Linked DNA regions of Homo sapiens. The protein of the gene in region 1 interacts with the protein of each later gene in a pairwise test. Each region holds a gene or a part of one and is shown in the gene's direction. Other genes may lie near its edges.

The links. Proteins that work in one complex are often made in the same cells at the same time.
Region 2: the proteins of STK4 (region 1) and RASSF3 interact in binary tests that used the Homo sapiens proteins (3 or more experiments, as listed by UniProt).
Region 3: the proteins of STK4 (region 1) and RASSF6 interact in binary tests that used the Homo sapiens proteins (3 or more experiments, as listed by UniProt).

Annotation. Positions count from the first base shown.
Region 1 is NC_000020.11:45,074,493-45,080,532, forward strand, and holds the end of STK4 (serine/threonine-protein kinase 4), read left to right. Parts: intron 1-525; coding exon 526-684; 3' UTR 685-5,529; downstream 5,530-6,040. UniProt on the Homo sapiens protein: Stress-activated, pro-apoptotic kinase which, following caspase-cleavage, enters the nucleus and induces chromatin condensation followed by internucleosomal DNA fragmentation.
Region 2 is NC_000012.12:64,683,492-64,690,521, forward strand, and holds part of RASSF3 (ras association domain-containing protein 3), read left to right. Parts: intron 1-1,295; coding exon 1,296-1,403; intron 1,404-4,724; coding exon 4,725-4,962; intron 4,963-7,030.
Region 3 is NC_000004.12:73,617,410-73,625,020, reverse strand, and holds the start of RASSF6 (ras association domain-containing protein 6), read left to right. Parts: upstream 1-4,584; 5' UTR 4,585-4,733; intron 4,734-7,611.

The DNA of each region.
Region 1 (6,040 bases):
AGGGCAGTGCCAAGACATTGGGGGTGTGGGAAGGCAGGGTTAGGGGATGGCATCTGCGCCTCATCAGCATCGATCCTCCATGGTGTCGTATCCTGAAAGTGGGAAAGGCGCTGTCCAGATAGACGCTTATCTCGTAGACAGAACAAGAACGGGGAGGCAACCATTATTTCACATACAGCAAGTTACTGTTATTTTAATGCCCTAACAATGAATCTATATTTAATTAACTTAAAAGATAGGGGAGGTGAGAGTATTATTCACTAAGTTCTTGGTCAAGGCACATTAAATCAAAGCGGTTAGCACTTAGATCTCTTCCAGGGATAAATTATCTCAGACAAGCTTCAAGGTATGCCATGCTTTGGAATGAATTGTCACTTTCCAACCACCACCACTCAACCTGTGATCTGACCACAGTGTCTTCCTCCTGTCTCCCTTCCCTCTGGGTGCCTGGGAAGGCTGGGCTTCTGCACTGTTCTGCCACTGACTTAAGCTTTGTCGTGACTATACCTTCCACTTCTCTTCTAGCTTAAGAGTTGGACAGTGGAGGACCTTCAGAAGAGGCTCTTGGCCCTGGACCCCATGATGGAGCAGGAGATTGAAGAGATCCGGCAGAAGTACCAGTCCAAGCGGCAGCCCATCCTGGATGCCATAGAGGCTAAGAAGAGACGGCAACAAAACTTCTGAGCAAGGCCAGGCTGTGAGGGCCCCAGCTCCACCCAGGCTTTGGGTGAATTCTGGATGGCTTGCCTCATGTTTGTTAGCCAGCACTTCTGCTCTGTCGTCTCTCCACAGCACCTTTGTGAACTCAGGAATGTGCGCCAGTGGGAAGGGCTCTCTTGACAGTCAGCGTGCCATCTTGATGTGTGTATGTACATTGGTCAGGTATATTATCTCAAAGGATTTATATTGGCGCTTTTAACTCAGAGTTTTAAACCCCAGGAACAGAGACTCCTAGTTGAGTGATAGCTGGGAAAGTTTTACATTGTCTGTTTTTCTTCTCCCAATAGCTTTCAATTGTTCTTTCTGGAAGACTTTTAAAAAAATATAAATATGCATATATATATATAAATTATAAATAGATTCCCCACGCAGTGTGGTGGCATCTCTGTACAGGTACAGTTTTAAACGGTTTGCCTCTTTTCTGTAAGATTATGGTACTGTGGAACATGAGGGCAGAGGACACCGGGAGGCTGTTAGGGGGTCACTGAATCCCAGGAGCCAACCTCCCCCTTTGCAGGGCTGCATTTAAAAATTAGGTTTGGGACAGTTCTTGTACCGTGGTTTCAGCCTTGTGTGGTCATCACTGGCTTCTGGAGCTATTGGTGATGTCCAAGGGAAAGCTTTGAGAGTTTATGTTTACTCTTTGAGTCCCAGGAGAAGCCTGGCACCCTCTTTGCAAATTGGCCTTTGCTCTTTCAATGCCTTTCATCCATCTCCACTCTCTCAACTGCCTAAAGTCACAGCACAGATACTGCCCAGTGCCTTAAGAGGAGACATGATCTCTACCAGGGACTCTCAGCAAACACGGGACTGTGTTCAGTCCACAAAGGAAAAGCGTTTTTGAAGCTCTCATTGTTCATGTAAAAATCATACACGTGGCATGTTGCTCCACATTCCTTACACACAGGGGTAGAGGGGATTGCTTTTGTGACCCACGTTCAAATATGTGACTGTTTTCTTTTCTCTTTTACTGCTAAGCAGCCTGGAAAGGATAAATGAATATTAGACTAAGATTTGTTTTCCAGGAGGCTCAATCTGAACACACAGAATGTCAGAGCTGGAAGGGACTATAGAGATCATCTGATCTGATCCTCTTGTACGGATGATCGCAAAACTGAGGTGTAGAGAGGGGAATGGCCAAAATCACAAAGCAAGTTAGCGTTAAGAGCTGAGACTAGAATTCAGGGTCCTCACTCCCAGGCCACCGAACCATGCAGCCCCTTCTTTGGGGGAAGAGACCTGTGTCAGTCTTGGTTAATTGTTCCAGGGAACCTTGCTAACAGAAACTTGCTCTTGCCTTGGCTCTTCAGTAGATGACCTGGCTGTAAAGAGATTCCCTGGACGAGCCAGATCATTCAGTTTCAGCGAGTCCTTGAGCTCCACAACATCTACCAGATATAGCAGACAAGCACCCATGGAGGCAGGTTTCGGGCCTGAAGCAGATCAGAGGGCTTTGCAAAAGACAGCATAGAGCCATCTTCCTGCAACTTTACCTCTTTCCCTCAGATGGGGAGCCATGACTGGGTTGCACCTCAGGATACTGTAATTTGACTCCATAATTGCTTTTGCTCCTGAAACCTGGGAATCAATGGAAAGGCAGGGAATGTGCCTCTTCTGTGGCCAGATTCTGTTATTTGCAATTAAAGCAAGTTTTTAAAAAATGCAAGAGGCAGTTGTTAGTCTTCAGGGCTTGGCAACTGAAATAGCTATGTGGCGGATACGGAAAACAGAGGACAATTTGAGGATCTTGCTGGAATAATAAATGACAGCTACCATTTGTTGAGCACCTATTATATATCAGGCACTGAGCTGGGTAGGCTCTAAACTTCACAATAACCCTGTGACTTAACTACTTTATCTCCATTTTGTAGTTGAAGAAATAAGTTCAGAGAGAAAGATTCCTTCCCAAGGTCATGCAGCTAGTAAATGATAGAATCAGGATTCATAGCATCACTATAGGGGGTCAATATTTACACAAAAAAGGAAAGTCACAAGCCTGTTTAAAATGAAGTGACCACCTTTTCTTGCATAGACTAAATAACTCGAACTGGCATTTTTAGGTTGGAAAGACAGCTGAATTAGTAGTTAAGTCTGATAGCCAAGTAAGTTTTAAAAACCAAAGCATCCAGGATGCACACCCCTGCACCATTTGCTGTGCGAATTAATAGTTCTGTCTCTCTCTCTCTTTCTTTTTTCTTTTTATTCTTTGAGATGGATTTTCGCTCTTGTCGCCCAGGCTGGAGTACAATGGCACGATCTTGGCTCACTGCAACCTCCGCCTCCCGGGTTCAAGCGATTCTTCTGCTGGGATTACAGCATATGCCACCATGCCCAGATTATTTTTTTGTATTTGTAGTAGAGACGGGGTTTCACCATGTCAGTCAGGCTGGTCTTGAACTCCTGACCTCAGGTGATCCACCCGCCTCAGCCTCCCACACTGCTGGGATTACAGGCATGAGCCACCGCTCCTGGCCTCTCTTTCTTTTTTAAACAAAGAACTTTGCACTTGGCCAGAGAGGAGGAGAAAGCCCATTTTCTCCCTTCCTAAGCTAGATCCAAATAAAAGAAAGTTCAGTTTTCCCCCATAACTATTCTTGGGTCATGAACTTTGATCTGGAGTTTGTTTTGTTTCAGGAATGTGTGCACCCAGCTTGCTGATCCAACAAAGTCTATTGCTTACCAGTCTAGCTTGATGAAGCCTTTTGGCCAGAAGTCAATTTGTTTTGGATCAGAGAAATTTCCTGACAAGGTATATTTGTTTTCTAGTGACAGAAAGGCAAAGGAACAAGTCCTAGTTGTTGTTGTTGTTGTTGAATACTAAATTTAAGATATGTCAGCTTGCTTTCAATGAGCCTTGGGCTTCTGTTATTGCTTGAGCATTTGGAACTCGAGCTTCCAGAGAAATTTGAGGTCCTCGCTTGTTCTCTGCCTTCAAGAAACAATGACCTGATTCTGTCTTTAAAAAAAAAAATCTCAGAATTCTTTTTTTGTTTGTGTTTTTTTTTTTTTTTGAGACAGAGTCTCACTCTGTTGCCCAGGCTGGAGTGCAGTGGCGCCATCTCGGCTCACTGCAACCTCCGCCTCCCAGGTTCAAGCAATTCTCCTGCCTCAGCCTCCCAGGTAGCTGCCACTACAGGTGCTGCACCACCACGCCCGGCTAATTTTTGTATTTTTAGTAGAGACAGGGTTTCACCATATTAGCCAGGTGGGTCTTGAACTCCTGACCTTGTGATCCACCCGCCTCGGCCTCCCAAAGTGCTGGGATTACAGGCGTGAGCCACCTTGCCTGGCCAAAAATCTCAGAATTCTTTAAGACTGTTTTAATTGCTCCATCAGTAATTTTGAAGCACTTTCCTTTTTTTTTTTTTTTCCCCTTTTTGTCCCTTTCCCCAAGCCACCAATTGGATGGATGAATGTTTGACGGGGAAGAGGAAGGGTAGGAGGATGCATGGATGAGTGGATGAGTGGATCGATGGATGTATTGATAAATAGATAGAACCAGTCATCTGAAGCAACTTAAGAATTGTAGCCTTGACTCCTTGAGACTGTAGATTTCGATCCAGGAAACATTTATTTAGCACCTGCCAGATGCCAGAAATTTATACCATTTAAAACTCAGTAAGTCTTTTAAATATCAGGAAGGAGAGAAGCGACATCATGATACATCCTATGGGTATTAAAAAGCCAATAGAATATTATGAATAATTTTATGCTAATAAATTTAACAACTTCAACATCATAAACAAATTCCTTGAAAAATAAAAAGTACCAAAATTCATTCAAGAAGAAATAGATACCAGCCTGAGCAACATGGCAAAATCCCATCTCTACAAAACATCAAAAAAAAAAAAAATTAGTCGGGCATGGTGGTGCACACCTGTAATCCCAGCTTGTCAGGAGGCTGAAGTGGGAGGATCACCTGAGCCCAGGGAGGTCAAGGATGCAGTGAGCCATGGTCTCACCACTGCACTCTAGCCTGGGTGACAGAATGAGACCCCGTCTCAAAAAAAAAGAAGAAGTAGATAATCTGAATAGCCCTATATCTATAGAAACTTAATAGTGCTGGGAGATATAGGTATTATTATCCTCATTTTACAGATGTGAAAATTGAGGCTCAGAGAAGTAAAGTCTATTGCTCAAGGTCATGTGGCTAGAATATGGCAGAGCCATGATTCAGATCCAGGTCTTCTGATTCTTATTCCAGTGTCCTTTCTAGCATACCATGTTGCCTCTAAAGATTGCAGCTCCTTATTTACTAGAAAATTGTTCCTGCCCAATCTACATCTCCACCTCACCCCATCTTTTCTTAAGCACTATGTTTGTGTTTTTATCAGTATTATATTCATTGTCTTTGGAATACATGTTCTTGTTTGTGTTTGGAAAAAAAATCTCTTTTACCAGCTTGCACTCGGACCAACTTGGAAAAAAAAAAGCTTAAATGTTTTTGCTATGTACAGTTTAAAAATGTGAAGTTTGTAGCTTTAACTTTTTGTAAGAAAATCTAATAACACTGGCTTAAGTGCTGACTTGAAATGCTATTTTGTAAGGTTTGGATGTAAGTAATCAATTGAGGTCAGCAGTTTGTATGAGACATAGCTTCCTCCATTGCCCCCACTCCTTTTTTCTTTTTTAAGTTTGAGATGCTTCCTGTGTTTTTATGTTAGAATTGTTGTTCTCCTTCTTTTCTTCTTCCTATACCTCATCACGTTTGTTTTAAATAAACTGTCCTTTGGACCACAAACCCTTATTAACGAGAACCTCAATATATAGCCTGGATAATGGTGTTGTGAACAATCTTTGTGACATTGACTCAGTGGTGTGTTTATTCTAAGATCCAAAGCTGGGGAGAGGTTGGTAAACTTTTGTTGGGCTTCTATTATGTGCCAGGGTACTGAGCTAGTTATCAGGAATATAATAAAGATGAACCAGATACAGTTTTTGCAGGGCATTTGGGGAGTTAGCCAAGCACAAAAACACACAACATTGAACATACCATGGTAGAAGAAGGTACAGGGCCTGTGGATACACAGAAGAGGGAGTGACGGTTCTGCTGGGATGTCCAAGGAAACTCTTCTAGAGGAGACAATATACCTTGAAACTTTAAAAATGAAGAAGAGATGGCTAGATTAATAAAGAGTAGGAAGTGAGGGAGAGAAGACATCCTGGACAGAAGAGCCCGCCTGTATAAAGCCTCTAGTGTGAGATGATCACCTTGGAATCCTTCATCCTCATCTGCTGCTGCACGAAGCCAGGCCAGACGTGGCCCAGCATTCAGAGGTGGAACAGCAGGTTCCTGCCCTGGTGTGGCCCATTCTTATCC
Region 2 (7,030 bases), on another chromosome or scaffold:
CTGGAAGGGTGGGAAGGAGAAGTCTGGCTACTTGTATCTTGGCCTGGGGATTTGTTTGGAAGATGAATTATCCTCTGGTAGTTGTGTACAGTTTACAGGTCAGTGATTAGTATGAGTCCGTGAATAGTGCCAGTTAATACTGATTAACTGCTGTACTTTTTGCCAATAAATATTGTAAAGCTATAAAGACAACAGAGTTAATACAAGTTGCTAAAGAGAAACTTGTGGTAAATGTCTTTAAATGTTGTTTAAAATAGAAATGGCCAATCTAGCAGGCATGCTGAGGAAATGATGTTTTTGCAGAAGGGAAATTTAGCAATGACAGTTTTGCAGAATATATTGGTAATGAAGTGTTACTTGTAGCTGCTGACAAATTAGTTTTCTTAAAAAATATATCCCCTAGGAAGACTGTAGTATGAAAGAATGAGAACCGTAATTGGTGGATGAGCCTGGAGAGTTTGAAGGTAAGAGAGAAAGAGAAGCAGCGAGGGAGAGAAGGAGAGAGAGAGAGAGAGAGAGTGAGTGTGTGTGTGTGTGTGTGTGTGTTTCAAGGTAACATGCAAGAACAATAAGGTTCTTCTTGTGTGGTTGTAATTTTTTTTTTTTTTTTTTTGAGACAGGGTCGCACTCTGTCACCCAGGCTAGAGCATAGTGGCATAATTATGGCTCACTACAGCCTCGACCTCTGGGCTGAGGTGATGCTCCCACCTCAGCCTCCTAACTAGCTGCGACTACAGGTGTGCACCACTGTGCCCAGCTAATTTTTGTATTTTTTGTAGAGATAGAGTTTCCTCATGTTGCCCAGCCTGGTCACAATCTCCAGGGCTTAAGCTCTGCCGTCCTTGGCCTCTCAAAGTCCTGGGATTGCAGGCTTCCACCACCGTGCCCGGCCCTTGTGTGGAATTTTTAAAAAATCCTGACTTATCTGTTTGTTTGTTTGTTTGTTTTTTTTTTTTGAGACAGAGTTTTGCTCTTGTTGCCCAGGCTGGAGTGCAATGGCGTGATCTCAGCTTACCACAACCTCTGCCTCTCACGTTCAAAGTGATTCTCCTGCCTCAGCCTCCCAAGTAGCTGGGTTTACAAGCGTGCGCCACCATGCCCAGCTAATTTCGTAATTTTAGTAGAGACAGGGTTTCTCCATTTTGGTCAGGGTGGTATTGAACTCCCAACCTCAGGTGATCCGCCCACCTCAGCCTCCCAAAGTGCTGGGATTACAGGCGTGAGCCACTGCGCCCGGCCTATCCGCACTTTTTTTTATGATTGCTCACATGTGACATGTCTTGTTTTTCTTCTAGGATGTTGAGAAAGAGAAGGAAACCCACAGTTACCTCAGCAAAGAGGAGATCAAAGAGAAAGTTCATAAATACAACTTAGCAGTCACAGACAAGTTGAAGATGACCTTGGTAAGCACTCAAAATACTATTTAGGTTGACACCTGTCAAAAGACAAATATAAATTGTTGGTACTACAATCTATAGTTCTAAATATCTGAATAGCATTTGTAGAAGTGTAGTAGTCAAGGTATACAGAACAGGAAAGTGGAATATTTCTGTGGCTTTCCATTTAAATCTGTATTGTGAAGTAGCTTTGTCTCAAAAATCAGTTGCTGGGTTAACCTTAAAAAAGTGAAACACTTATAATTTTATTTTAAAAGATTTTGTGACCCACCCCTCCCTCCTCAAAGGATTTTTAGCATCATTGCCTAACATACAGAAATGGTGACTCAGATTCTAAGAAGACCTCAGGTAAGGTTTTTTGTTTTGTTTTGTTTTGAAACAAGGTTTTGCTCTGTCACCTGGGCTGGAGAGCAGTGGCACGATCACCGCTCACTGCAGCCTCGACCTCCGGGCTCAAGTAATCCTCCCACCTCAGCCTCCCGAGTAGCTGGGACCACAGGTGCTTGCCACCATGCCCAGCTAATTTTTGTATTTTTTGTAGAGACGGGGTTTTGCCATATCACCCAGGCTCATCTCAAATTCCTTGGCTCAAGGGATCTGCCCAGCTTGGCCTCCCAAAGTGCTGGGATTACAGGTATCAGAAGCCCCTAAGTTTTTGTCTTGTACAAAATAAATATGGAAGTGTCAGGGAAAGGATTTTGAGCCCATGGATTGGAATATAGAGGTATATAATAGGATAGTTTTCTCTGCCGGTCGTTAGTGTAAGACAAGGTACTTAATACTCAGTTTCTTCCACGTCGCTGTCGCAGGCTTCCACAGCATTGTGCCACACTGAAGCATGCAGGGAGTCGGCGTACAGGAGGGAGAAGCCTCAGGGCCTGGGGATAGGGAAACGAGCTGACAGCGGAGCTAGAGTATTCATGTTCCTCTAAACTTAGCTGGCATCTAGGTCTCGCCTACCCATTGGGTGGCCCGCCTTCTTCATGGCACTTGTCAGCCCTTGGCGCCAGTTTCCAGGGCACTTGGATCCCCGTCTCTCAGTCTGTTTACTGTGAACTGACAGAGTTTGGTAAAGGACAAGGTGATTGGTTTAAAACAGGCCCTACCGAATCGGTGATTCTTGGGGAGGAGCTTTCAGATAGAAACCCTTGTGGTAAAGGACCCCTCCCTGGTAGAACTCCTCCAAAAAGAGGGGAGAGGAGCAGAGAATCCCAAGATAACTCTTCATCATTCCAGCAGCAAGATTTCTTTTTCAAACACATTTTTTCATCAAAGGAGAAATCCACTTGCTATGTTTTTTTTTTTTCCTTTCCTGATAGAGACTAAAACAGATACAAATTATCCATGTCATTTTAAAGATAAAAATTTTAGGCTGGGCACAGTGGCTCACACCTGTAATCTCAGCATTTTGGGAGGCTGAGGCGGGTGGATCACTTGAAGTCAAGAGTTCGACGGTGGCTCACGCCTGTAATCCAGCACTTTGGGAGGCCGAGGTGGGCAGATCACGAGGTCAGGAGATCGAGACCATCCTGGCTAACACAGTGAAACCCTGTCTCTACTAAAAATACAAAAATTAGCCAGGCGTGGTGGCGGGCGCCTGTAGTCCCAGCTACGCGGGAGGCTGAGGCAGAAGAATGGCGTGAACCCAGGAGGCAGAGCTTGCAGTGAGGCAAGATCGTGCCACTGCACTCCAGCCTAGGCGACAGAGCAAGACTCCATCTCAAAAAAAAGAGTTCAAGGCCAGCCTAGTCAACATGGCAAAACCCCATCTCTCCTAAAAATAGAAAAATTAGCCAGGCATGGTGGCGGGTGCCTGCAGTCCCAGCTACTCAGGAGGCTGAGGCAGGAGGATCACTTGAACTCAGGAAGTTGAGGCTGCAGTGAGCTGTGTTCGTGCCACTGCACTCCAGCCTGGGTGAGAGAGTGAGACCCTGTCTCAAAAAAGAACAAACTAGAGAATTAGGATTGAAAATTGATCTTGTGGGAAGGAAGAAAAATAACACACCATAAAGATAGTTTTAAATGTTCTACTTTAACTGTGGCATTTATATGTAACACTTGACAGTTTAATAAAACAGTACAATAAATCTTTTCTAAATATACTGTTTTTGTTTGTTTTTGAGATGCAGTCTCTGTCGCCCAGGCTGAAGTGTAATGGCGTAATCTCGTAATCTCGGCTCACTGCAACCTCCACCTCTGGGTTCAAGAGATTCTCCTGCCTCAGCCTCCCGAGTAGCTGGGATTATAGGCACCTGCCACCACACCCAGCTAATTTTTTTTTATTTTTATTTTTAGTAGAGACGGGATTTCACCCTGTTGGCCAGGCTGGTCTCGAACTCCTGACCTCCAGTGGTCTGCTCGCCTCGGCCTCCCAAAGTGCTGAGATTACAGACATGAGCCACTGCGCCTGGCCCCAAATATACTGAATACAAAAATAAAAATAAAAAGTGAAGACCAAACTGTTATTACTGTTTTTGGCAACTAAGAAATAGTAATTCTACCATCAGTGAAGGTAGTTGTTTTTAAGATCTGTACTGTGAAGTATAGTGGTTTGAATTTGTTTTTTTTTGTTTTGTTTTGTTTTTGTTTTTTGTTTTTTTTTTTGAGACAGAATCTTGCTCTGTCGCCCAGGCTGGAGTGCAATGGCGTGATCTTGGCTCATTGCAACCTCCACCTTCTGGTTTCAAGCGATTGAATTTTTTTTTAAAATGCTGCTTAAGAGACCCGAAATGCATTCTATGCTGTATGGCATATATGCTGCATTAAAAAGTTTAAGCAGAGTTAGTAATTCAGTGCATATGAATATAGCCACTAGGAATGAAAATAGCCTGTTTTCTTACTGTCCCCTTGTTGTTGACTTCAGTATTTCAGAGCCCTAATTGTGACCTTCCTTTTGTGTATAATAGTCACCAGTTGAGGATGTTGTTTCCTTTGAGCCTGTAGCCTAGACATATCCCCCAAGCTTTAATAAGTTTTGTGGTTTGGCTAGCATCTGCTCCGTTGGATTGTAACCTCGCAAATGGACCCTGACCTTTTGCCAGTAGCTTCAGAGGCATGAGTCTGGGGCCGGCAGTCAGCCACAGCATCAGGAGGCTTCTTCAGTGTCCACATCTGCCCTGCAGACCTTGCCTCTGGAAGCACTTTGCCTGGTGTGTTAACCGCCCTCTGAGGTCATTCCTTTGGGGGCAATCTTTAGTGAAGTTCTGCCACAAACCTCAAGAGAAGAGAACAAAGGAGTGTTTCACCTTCCCGTTTTGTTTTGATATGCTTCTTCCCTAAAGTGCCACCATCCACCCAGCTAAGTGTGTGCTTCTCTCCCTGCTTCAGAATTCAAATGGGATTTACACTGGCTTCATTAAAGTACAGATGGAACTCTGCAAACCTCCACAGACTTCTCCAAATTCTGGAAAACTCTCTCCCAGTAGCAATGGCTGTATGAATACACTTCATATCAGCAGCACAAACACTGTCGGGGAAGTGATCGAGGCCCTGCTCAAAAAGTTTCTCGTGACTGAGAGCCCTGCCAAGTTTGCACTTTATAAGCGTTGTCACAGGGAAGACCAAGGTACGCTGCCAGCTTAAAAGGAAAATGGTCTGTGCTTCTACTTGCATCTGCTGTTCTCATTAGCAGAGGGAAGACTGGTGGGTCTCATCCATGTCAGTTGTGTCAGAGCCTGGAGTCCGATGCTGGAAGCCATGGTGATCTTAGCATGCACTTAGTGCTTCCTGGCTGTCCATATTTTTGAGTTGGACAGTTGAGGGTCTGAGGAGCTTGGAAGCATCCATATGTGATTGGCAGTTACGAGTATTTTGTGGTGTTGGTGGGGGGATGGGGCGGGGGCTGTTTTTGGTGGTTGTTAGGAGTGGCTTTGATTTTAGTTTTCTTTAGGACACAAAAGAGTGCCTCTGTGTTTGAAGTTTTCAATAGCACATTCCACATTTGATGTGCATCAGTACGTGGAGTGGTTTGGTGGATGTGTGCTGAGATCTTGCGACTGGGGAGGCACATGTGCATCACAGCACATTTCAGCGTACTGATGGAAACGGCCCAGCCCTGGGCTCTCCTGTTGCCTTAGCTTGTCTCACTTGGTGTTACGCCGGGACATTTTGGTACTCTGTCCCCCAGAGGCTCATCAAATGAGTGAATAACATTTTGATCTAGGGTCTGACTAAAACTTCATATCCACATTCAGGGGATAGAAAGAGAACATTAAATATTAAATTACTGCGTGAAACAGAATGAGATATTCCAGGTCAGGCAGTGACCAGAAATTGATAACATTGGTGGACAGTAGTGATTCAGTGACTCACTACATGCGATTTGAAATCGGGGTGTGTGTGTGTGTGTGTGTGTGTGTACAATAAACTATTTAAGCTTTCTTTGGTTTTTCTCGGTAAAGCCTAATGTAGCTATAGAAGAAAATATATTAACCTTGACATGATAGTAATGTTCTTCAGTTACACAGGATGAAACCCAGCTCATTGCTGAGTATGCATACATCTTTTTAAAAACAAACCATGGGGCTAGACCCTGTGGAATACAAAGATGAACAGGCCAGGGTTCCTACCTTCAGAGGTCACAAGCTTAGTATTGTGGGGGCTTATATCTATAGGGAAATTGGCACCTGCGATGCAGTGCATCTGGAAGTGCCACAATAATGTAGAGAAGCTCGATGGCATTTTTATCTGCCAGTTTCTTTGCCTGCTCACCTGGACTTTAGCTGTACAATCTGAAAGTAATCGTGACTTGTTGAAATATTACCCCCATGGCTGGCAAATCCTTTAACATGATTGGCAATGTCACTGTATGTGTGTGTCTAGCATGAGACATATATAGCTGTGCTTGAAGCTACCGGAGCTTATATTCTGATTGCTTGGTTTGTAGCTGCTAATTCGCTAATTCTTTTTTTTTTTTTGAGACGGAGTCTCGTTCTGTCACCCAGGCTGGAGGTGCAGTGGCGCAATCTTGGCTCACTGCAAGCTCCACCTCCCGGGTTCACGCCATTCTCCTGCCTCAGCCTCCCGAGTAGCTGGGACTTACAGGCGCCCGCCACCACGTCTGGCTAATTTTTTTGTGTTTTTAGTAGAGACGGGATTTCACTGTGTTAGCTAGGATGGTCTCGATCTCCTGACCTTGTGATCCGCCCGCCTCAGCCTCCCAAAGTGCTGGGATTGCAGGTGTGAGCCACCGCGCCTGGCCTCGCTAATTCTTAATTAATCTGTAGAGAGATTTGCTTTTAGAACTCTTGTTTTTATGTTCTTTGGATGGTATATACATTTTTTTTTAAATTTGTTTTTTGTTTGTTTGTTTGAGACGGAGTCTTGCTCTGTTGCCCAGGCTGGTGTGCAGTGGCACAATCTCGGCTCACTGCAACCTCCGCCTCCTGGGTTCCAGTGATTCTCCTGCCTCAGCCTCCCAAGTAGCTACAATTACAAGTGCCCACCACCATGCCCAGCTAACTTTTGTATTTTTAGTAGAGACAGAGTTTCACCATGTTGGTGGCCAGGCTGGTCTCAAACTCCTGACCCCAGGCAATCTGCCTGTCTCGGCCTCCCAAAGTGCTGGGATTACAGGTATGAGCCACCACGCCTGGCCTTGGTTTTTGAGACAGCGTCTTACTCTGTCACCTAGG
Region 3 (7,611 bases), on another chromosome or scaffold:
ACATCAATTACAGCACTGTTTTAATTAAAGTTCTGTGTATATTTTTAAAGGAAATTTCTCCTCCCTTATTTTTCTCAACAAAGTTTTTTTTTTTTAATTAAATTTCTTGTCTGTTTTCACAGAAAAGCAGTATATGTTCCTCAATTGAAACAGGAAGTGACGGTTTATTCTTCAAGTTCAAGTTAAATGTTGGGATTTTCCAAAAATCTTAATCTGTTACGGTTGCTGTAATTTATTAAAATCTTTATGGCAAAAATTTCCAGTTGTAAAATATATTTATTTTAAGCTTTACACATCGGAAATGTAATTAACACATTGCCTCCTTGTGAAGGCCTGGCTTCCTCTTTAAGGCAATTTTCCAGCTAGGTTTTTACTGGGAGTCCCCTCATTGTTTGGAACTACACTGCCTCTGCTTCCTTTTTTCCTTCCCTAGCACATATTCTTTAAGTACAGCCTCAGATATGAAATGAAGTGTAAGGCAAAAAATATGTATGCCCTCAGTATTTGATAAAAGTGTCATTTCATATCAAGAAAGAGTGTGATCTACATTTATTTACTCAACGCTTATTTATTGTTACTATTTTTTCTTGACCCAGTGTTTCTTGACCCTCAGGGGACCACACATTGTTCTAGACACTAAGCATAGAGGAGTGAACCTACAAGTCAAGGTTCCTGATCTCTTAGCGTTTATATTTTAATGACAGGAGACATAAAATAAAGAGGTAACCCCAAACAATAAAACATAATTAGCTAATGATAATTGCCACAAATACAATAAAACAAGGTGCTATAATAGAGAAAGATCAGAAGTCTTCTTCGAATACAGTCGTCATAGGAAGCTTTTCTAAGGAGGTAATATTTGAGGAAAAAAACATAGTAATGAAAAGAAACTACCCATGACCAGAGCAAAGCTTTCTTGAGTGAATCAATAATAAATACAAACGCAGTGAGACAGGAAGAAGTTTAGTCTGTTCCAGAAATAAAAATTAACCAGGGTAGCAAGTTTAGAGTTAGTACCAAGGAAGCAGAAAATCAAAAAGGTCGAAGAAGCAGGGATGAGCCAGTCATGTGGGGCATTGTAGGGCATGGTAAGCAGTTCAGATTTAGATTTTATTCCAGATGTGCGGTGCAACCACTAGAAAGCCTTTAAACCAAGAAAATCAGAAGTGGTATTGTTGTCTGGATATTGCTTATAAAAGATTACGCTAGCCACAGGTGGAGAATGGACTGTAGTAGGATAAGAGGGGAGGCATAAAGCCCAGTTCGGAGGTCATTTGTGGTATCCAAGCAAGAGATGATGCTGGCCTGATGTAAGGTGGTAGCCATGGAGATACAACATCAGGACTTGCTCATTTACTGGGCGTGGAAAGAGGGAAAGAAAGAAATCAAGAGTGCTAGTTAAACATTTGATCTGAGCAACCATGGGCCTGCCAGTCACTGTGCTAAGCTTAGTGGTTAAAATAGAGGATAAGACATTATGAATTTATGAAGGTCCTTGCCTTCATAAATTTTATAATCTATAGTTATTTAATAAACATGACTCAGTTAACAAACTAATAACTTAGAAAAATTAAGTTAGATCTAAATTTCATGGTGTATTAACATAATAAAGTCTAGATGGGCTAAAATGTTCAATTTAATAAATAAATAATATCTAAATCTTAGAAAAACTAGAAGAAGCAATATATGTGCATTTTTACATTCTTTAAGGATGGGAAAGCTTTTATAAAACTGATGTAACTGATAAAGAAAAATAATAGATTCGACCATTTACATTTTTAAACTTTTATATGTCAAAAATACCATAGACAAGACTGCAAGGTAAACAAGTCACCTTGAAAATATAGTCACAGCATATATGATGAAGAGTTGATATGTTTAATATATAAAGAGAATTTATAAATCAATAAGAAAAAAGATGAGCAAAGAGTCCAATAAACAATAAAGCAAAAGTGCAAAGTCTAAAGAGCCCAAACTTACAAGTACGATAATATATATATTTAAAATAAGATATGGATTTTTTTATGTTTCAAATTAATAAATGTTTAAAAGAAGTATAATAACCCATGTTAGCTGCCCTGGGAGTATAAAACTGACAAAGATTTTTTAAGCAGGGAAATTCTTCAAAATGCACATTGCCTTACATCTGGTAACTTCAATTTTTGAAATGTATCTAAAAGGTGTAGTCATGCTTGTGTGGAATCATATGTAATCATTCACTGCAGTGTTGTTTATAACAGTATAACTTTATCATAATAATTAAATAAGTAACGGTATTTTCATTTGGTGCAATACAGAGCAGCTAGTTAAAATTACATTGCAGGAAAAAAAGTGACTGATTTATAGTAAATTGTTCATACTACGTTTGATGTGATGAAAGCAGGCTATAAACCAACAAACCAAATGTAATAGCATTTTGATAAACAGCCACAGGGAAAATAAGTCAATAAAGACATTCAACAAATTGTTTATGATGATTATACTTGAGAGATGGAATTATAGGTGCTTTTTGTCCTCTACATTTCTGTGTTTTTCAGATTTTCCACATTGCATATGTGCAATTATATACTTTTTATATTATCAAATAAAAATTACATATTTACAAACAGATAAAACACTAAAAAACGAAGTCACTAAGCCTCTAACTTTACTTTTCTTTAGAAAACCAGTTGGAAAGCAGTCATCAGAGTAAAAGTTTCCACAGCATCTGCCATTTAACAGTTTCTAAGCCTTTTTGGAGTCCTTTTGAAATTGGAGATATTGGCAAAAAACAAAGCCCCCAAATCCAATGCTTGCAGGTAAAAGATGCAAAAGAATGTTGCCCTGATGCTGACAATAAGCAAATGACCCACTTCAAGCACAGACAATGGAGGTGGAGCATGGATTTGAGCAAGATATCCTGGAACCGAGAGCTGTAACTACTCTAGGTCCTGCTAGTCATCATTCAAAGGTCAGTCCATACCAGCAGCCACATACCAGAGAGTTATGGAGCCAACATGATGATCGAATTAATATCTGCAAGTAATACTAAGTCACATCTGTCCTTACATAAGATTGTAAAATCTTTGATTGTGATCCAATAAAACCATTTGCTCAAATAATGATAAATCTGATAGTTCCTGGTCTCCGCACACCACAGATTAAATAGATAAACTGCCTAATATTTTTTCTTTTTTTTTTTTGAATCAGGCTGGAGTGCAGTGGTGCAATCTTGGCTCTCTGCAGCCTCGACTTCCCAGGCTCAAGTGATCCTCCCACCTCAGCCTCCCGAGTAGCTGGGACTATAGGCATGCCCCACAATGCCGGGCTAATTTTTTTTTTTTTTTTTGCAGAGACAGGGTTTTGCCATGTTGTCCAGGCTGGTCTTGAACTCCTGGGCTCAAGTGATCCACCAGCCTTGGTCTCCCAAAGTGCTGAGATTACAGGCGTGAGTCACTGCACCTGGCCTGCCTCACCTTTTGAACATATAGGATCTTACTTAAAGTGCTATGACAAACATGCAACCTGAACATCTAGAGTCATTCTGTTTGTCTGGCGTTTGAACACGAAAGATACTAGAAATTAACTCTGCCTGCTGAACTTTTTGCAGGAATCAGATTGAATTTCTTTTGAGGGCTCTCAGGTTTACACTTGTAAAATAACCTATTATGTTTAAAAATTATGAATAGTTGCTTTACATAGGAAACCAGTAAAATAACAATGATCCTTAAAAATCTGTGTGTGTGTGTGTGTGTGTGTGTGTGTAAATGTACTTCATATTTCCACAGCATCTGTCATTTAACAGTTTCTAAGCCTTTTTGGTGTCCTTTTGAAATTGGAGATATTGGATAAAACAAAGCCCCCAAATCCAATTCAGTAGATAATGACTAAATTATTATTTATCTCCTCTGTTTTGTTTCATTATGTTCATTTTCAAACTTTGATGTCTACCAGTTTCTTCTGTGGAGCTTATAAAAAATATAAATACCCGAAGTGTATGCATGGCCTACTAAATCAGAGTCTCACAGTTGATGGTACCTGGGTTTAGCAGAATACATAGGTGGTCCTGGTGCACCCTGAAGCGCGAAACGCTGCTCTGGGTGAAAAAAAGTGCTAGCAGGGAAATGTGTTAGCAAAATAACAAGGAAAAGAAAGTTAACAAATCTCAAATTGGAAAAGAAAAATCTTAAAAAGAAAGACGTGAATAATGGCGTTCAGTCTTGGTTGGTGTCATTTCTCACAGGCCAATTACCTACAGTCTGGGTGGACTAGAGAATAGAGATTAACATCAGTCAAATCCCGTGGTTAAAGCGTTAACTAGAATGTCCATTCATTTCTCAAGAAGTGTGGCAGAGAGCAAAGGAGTGTACCTATCAGCTGTTCCTAAGAAAGTAAACACTCCCAACATGCACTGAGGCACAGGGAGTGGCTCAGGTTTCTTGACACTTCCCTGCTGTGGCGAAAAGGAGAAATAATTAACAGCTCCTGGGGCTCCAGGATCGCTGATCGCGTCGGGGGCACTGCAAGCGCCCAGCTGAGCCATGCTCTGGGAGGAGACAGGCGCCGCCCCTGCGCCCGCGCGGGCCTCGGACCTCCCCTACAGGTGAGTGACTCGCGGAGTCCCAGCCCGGCAGAGACAGGGCACTGGTTTCCCTCTACCAGAGTTCCTGACCCAGCCGAGAACAAACCGCGAAGCAAGTTCAGCCGAACAACGATGGTGAAAAGGGTCCTCCTGCTCACAGTGTGAATAACAGGTAAAAAATGGGGATGGGGAAAAAAACTTTCTAATCCACTCCCTGGGGTCATGTTGAGGGCAAGTTATTAGAAAGCAGAATCCATAGGCAACAAAGTTAAGTGTGTGTGTGTCATAGCAGCCTGAATCGCACACATGCCTTTTCCTTTTGATTTTCTCAGAATATGCTTTCCTAACCAAGGTAAGCTTGTAGGGTGGGAGGGAGAGAGGGGAAAGAAGGGAGGGAAAGGGTGCAGAGAAGGGCTTGGAGGTAAATGTGACCATAGGACCCCTCCTCCCTTTAGTTCAATGAGCCCTTCACCTGTAATTGTGCCTGGCAAAAATCGTGCCTTACAAAGATACTAGACTTCTGGATGGCATACTCCTTCCTCTGAGTATCCTTATGGTTAGAATATTGTGTTGAATCATCGCACTGGAAAGAACTTAATTGAGGGTTCAGCTCAACTTTTATTTGTTTCTGCAAAGTGACAGAAAGCATGCCCCCCACCAAAAAAAAAATGAATTTTCAATATAAGCGCTCACCAAACAATGAAATAATAAACATAAATAATTAAATGGGAGTGCATGAGTTAAGGATATGAATTCTGAAGCAGAAGAGTGGTAGGTTCAAAGCTCGGCTTTGCCACTTATTAGTTTGCCCCCTCTCAAGTTTCTTAACCTAAGCCCCAAACGTTTGTCTGTAAAACAAGCATCATCAAAGGATCTGCCACATAAGGCTTTCTTTGATGGGAACTGAACAGTCAGCAAGTGTTCTGTAAGTGATACCTACTGTTAGCATTAAGAATAAGCTGCTCTGCCAAAGGGGCCGTTATCAGGGAGGGCAAGCTGAACTAGGGAGACCAGACAGTGTGTATTAGGATGCTGGAATTGAACTGGTTCCCGGAGACTGGATCCAGGACAGGCAAGCAGGTGACAGGTGTGCTAGGATCATCTCTCTGGGTAGCAACGAAATGACCTGGCTTCTTTCCATTTTTCAGATAGAGTATGTGGTGGCAAATTCAGACATATTTGCTACTCAATCAGTTTTCTTTTGAAAAATTCACATTTACATTAATCTGTTATTCCTAAAAAGAAAATAGAATTTTAGAGTAAGAGAGTTACACACAATCTCATATTGTGGAATTCATGCCATTTGGGTTTTATAAAGGAGACTGCTTTTGAATAACTTTCATCAATTTAGACCATATAATCCATGTCTTTATATTTCAGCACATATTGAATTGTTTGTATTGAAGTGCTGTTTTTAATTTGTGTTGATGGACAAGAGACATGAAGGAATAATACTTGTATTTTGTCAGTCTCTACCTCTTAAGCTTAAATTACAGGAAAGTGGCTTTATTTTATGAAGTTTCACTTAAAGGGCACTTTTGTCAATGTTGTTAGTTATTAATGTTGCTAATTTTCTTGAGGGGACCAACTTAGTGTCTATGACTAGTAATTTCCATTGACTTCATTTTTATCTTGTTATTTTATTAAATAAAGCAGTCAAAGAGTTTGCAGTATACTCTAACTTAATATCATTGGTGTTTTAATGGATTCTTTTTTCAAATTGCAGAGTTGAAATTCTTCAGTGTGCTTACAATTAGATATTGACTGGAGAATTGTGGATAGAATTCTAAACCCAACCTAACTGAAGTTTACTATGTTATTTCCCTCTGGGGTCTGATTGTGTTTAGTACAGTTTAGCTAAAAACTTATAAAGGAATCAAATTGAATTAGAATAAGTTAGGGTTCCAATATTCATTAAAGATTTTTCAAAGAGGAAATATGCTTTTATGCTGAATTTCCATATTGTTATACATCCTTAAACAAAGTTATTTGCCTTTATATTTATTGATAGACATATGTCTAAATAAAGAATAGTAGCCCCAATTGAGATAAATTTATTTAACCATATTTGAAATTGATTTGAGATTAATCTACTTAACCGTAACTGGGTGGAAGTCTTTCTAGTTAAAATCTGTTTAGATAGATAGATAGATAGATAACAACTTTATATCTATACATTAGAATATTGTGTTGAATTTACATTTATTCTACTATTTCTCACGTGTATAACATTTTATTATAAACTATTAAATGTTGTGGTCAATCAGAGAGAGAGAGAAAGAGAGAAAAGAGTGACACAGAGAGACCCAGCAATGATTACGAAAAAATTAACTTTTCCAGTTATATTCAAAATAGTGTAACATGTATGTAACAAGTCTTTTAAGCATGTAATTAAAAGTTCTATACCTGATTCTTGTTTTAATTTCCTAAAATAAGAAGGATCCTTTACTTTTAACTGAGATAGAAACCCAATGCTGACAGTCCATTTGCTTATATAGATTCATTGATTGCAATGTAGGTGGGGAATTCACGGTTACTAGAGTTACATGGGCTTCATATAAAAGCTTAGATTTTTAAAATATTCAAGTATAGGCCATTTGAAAACAAAACCTCTGAGAAAGGAATTCTGAATATTTTCCTTTCACATTACAGTTAGAGAGTTATTCTGTTGCAAAAATTAATTTGTATGTTTAAAATGATAAATTATAGTGATTTCATCACTTTCATAACATAATCTCAACAACCAAACTTAACTAATACCACTGCTTTCAGGAGTAGAACATGAAGTGTCTCCTATTTAAGTAATAAGGATGTTAACTTAAAGGAAAACTTCATCATCACCTAGAGCCTAGTAAAGGAGCTTAAGAGGAGAGAGTGTCGATTCTTTTGCAGCAAATATACAAACAGGAAAAATGAGTCGTGATCTTTGTGACGTCAGCCTAAGAATTTCTACTGGGAAGCTCAGGTGAAGCAGAAAATTTTTGAGTTCCACCACACCAGTAATTCCAGAAGATGCTGTCGGCAGACTGAGCAGCGCCTCCCAGACCCAG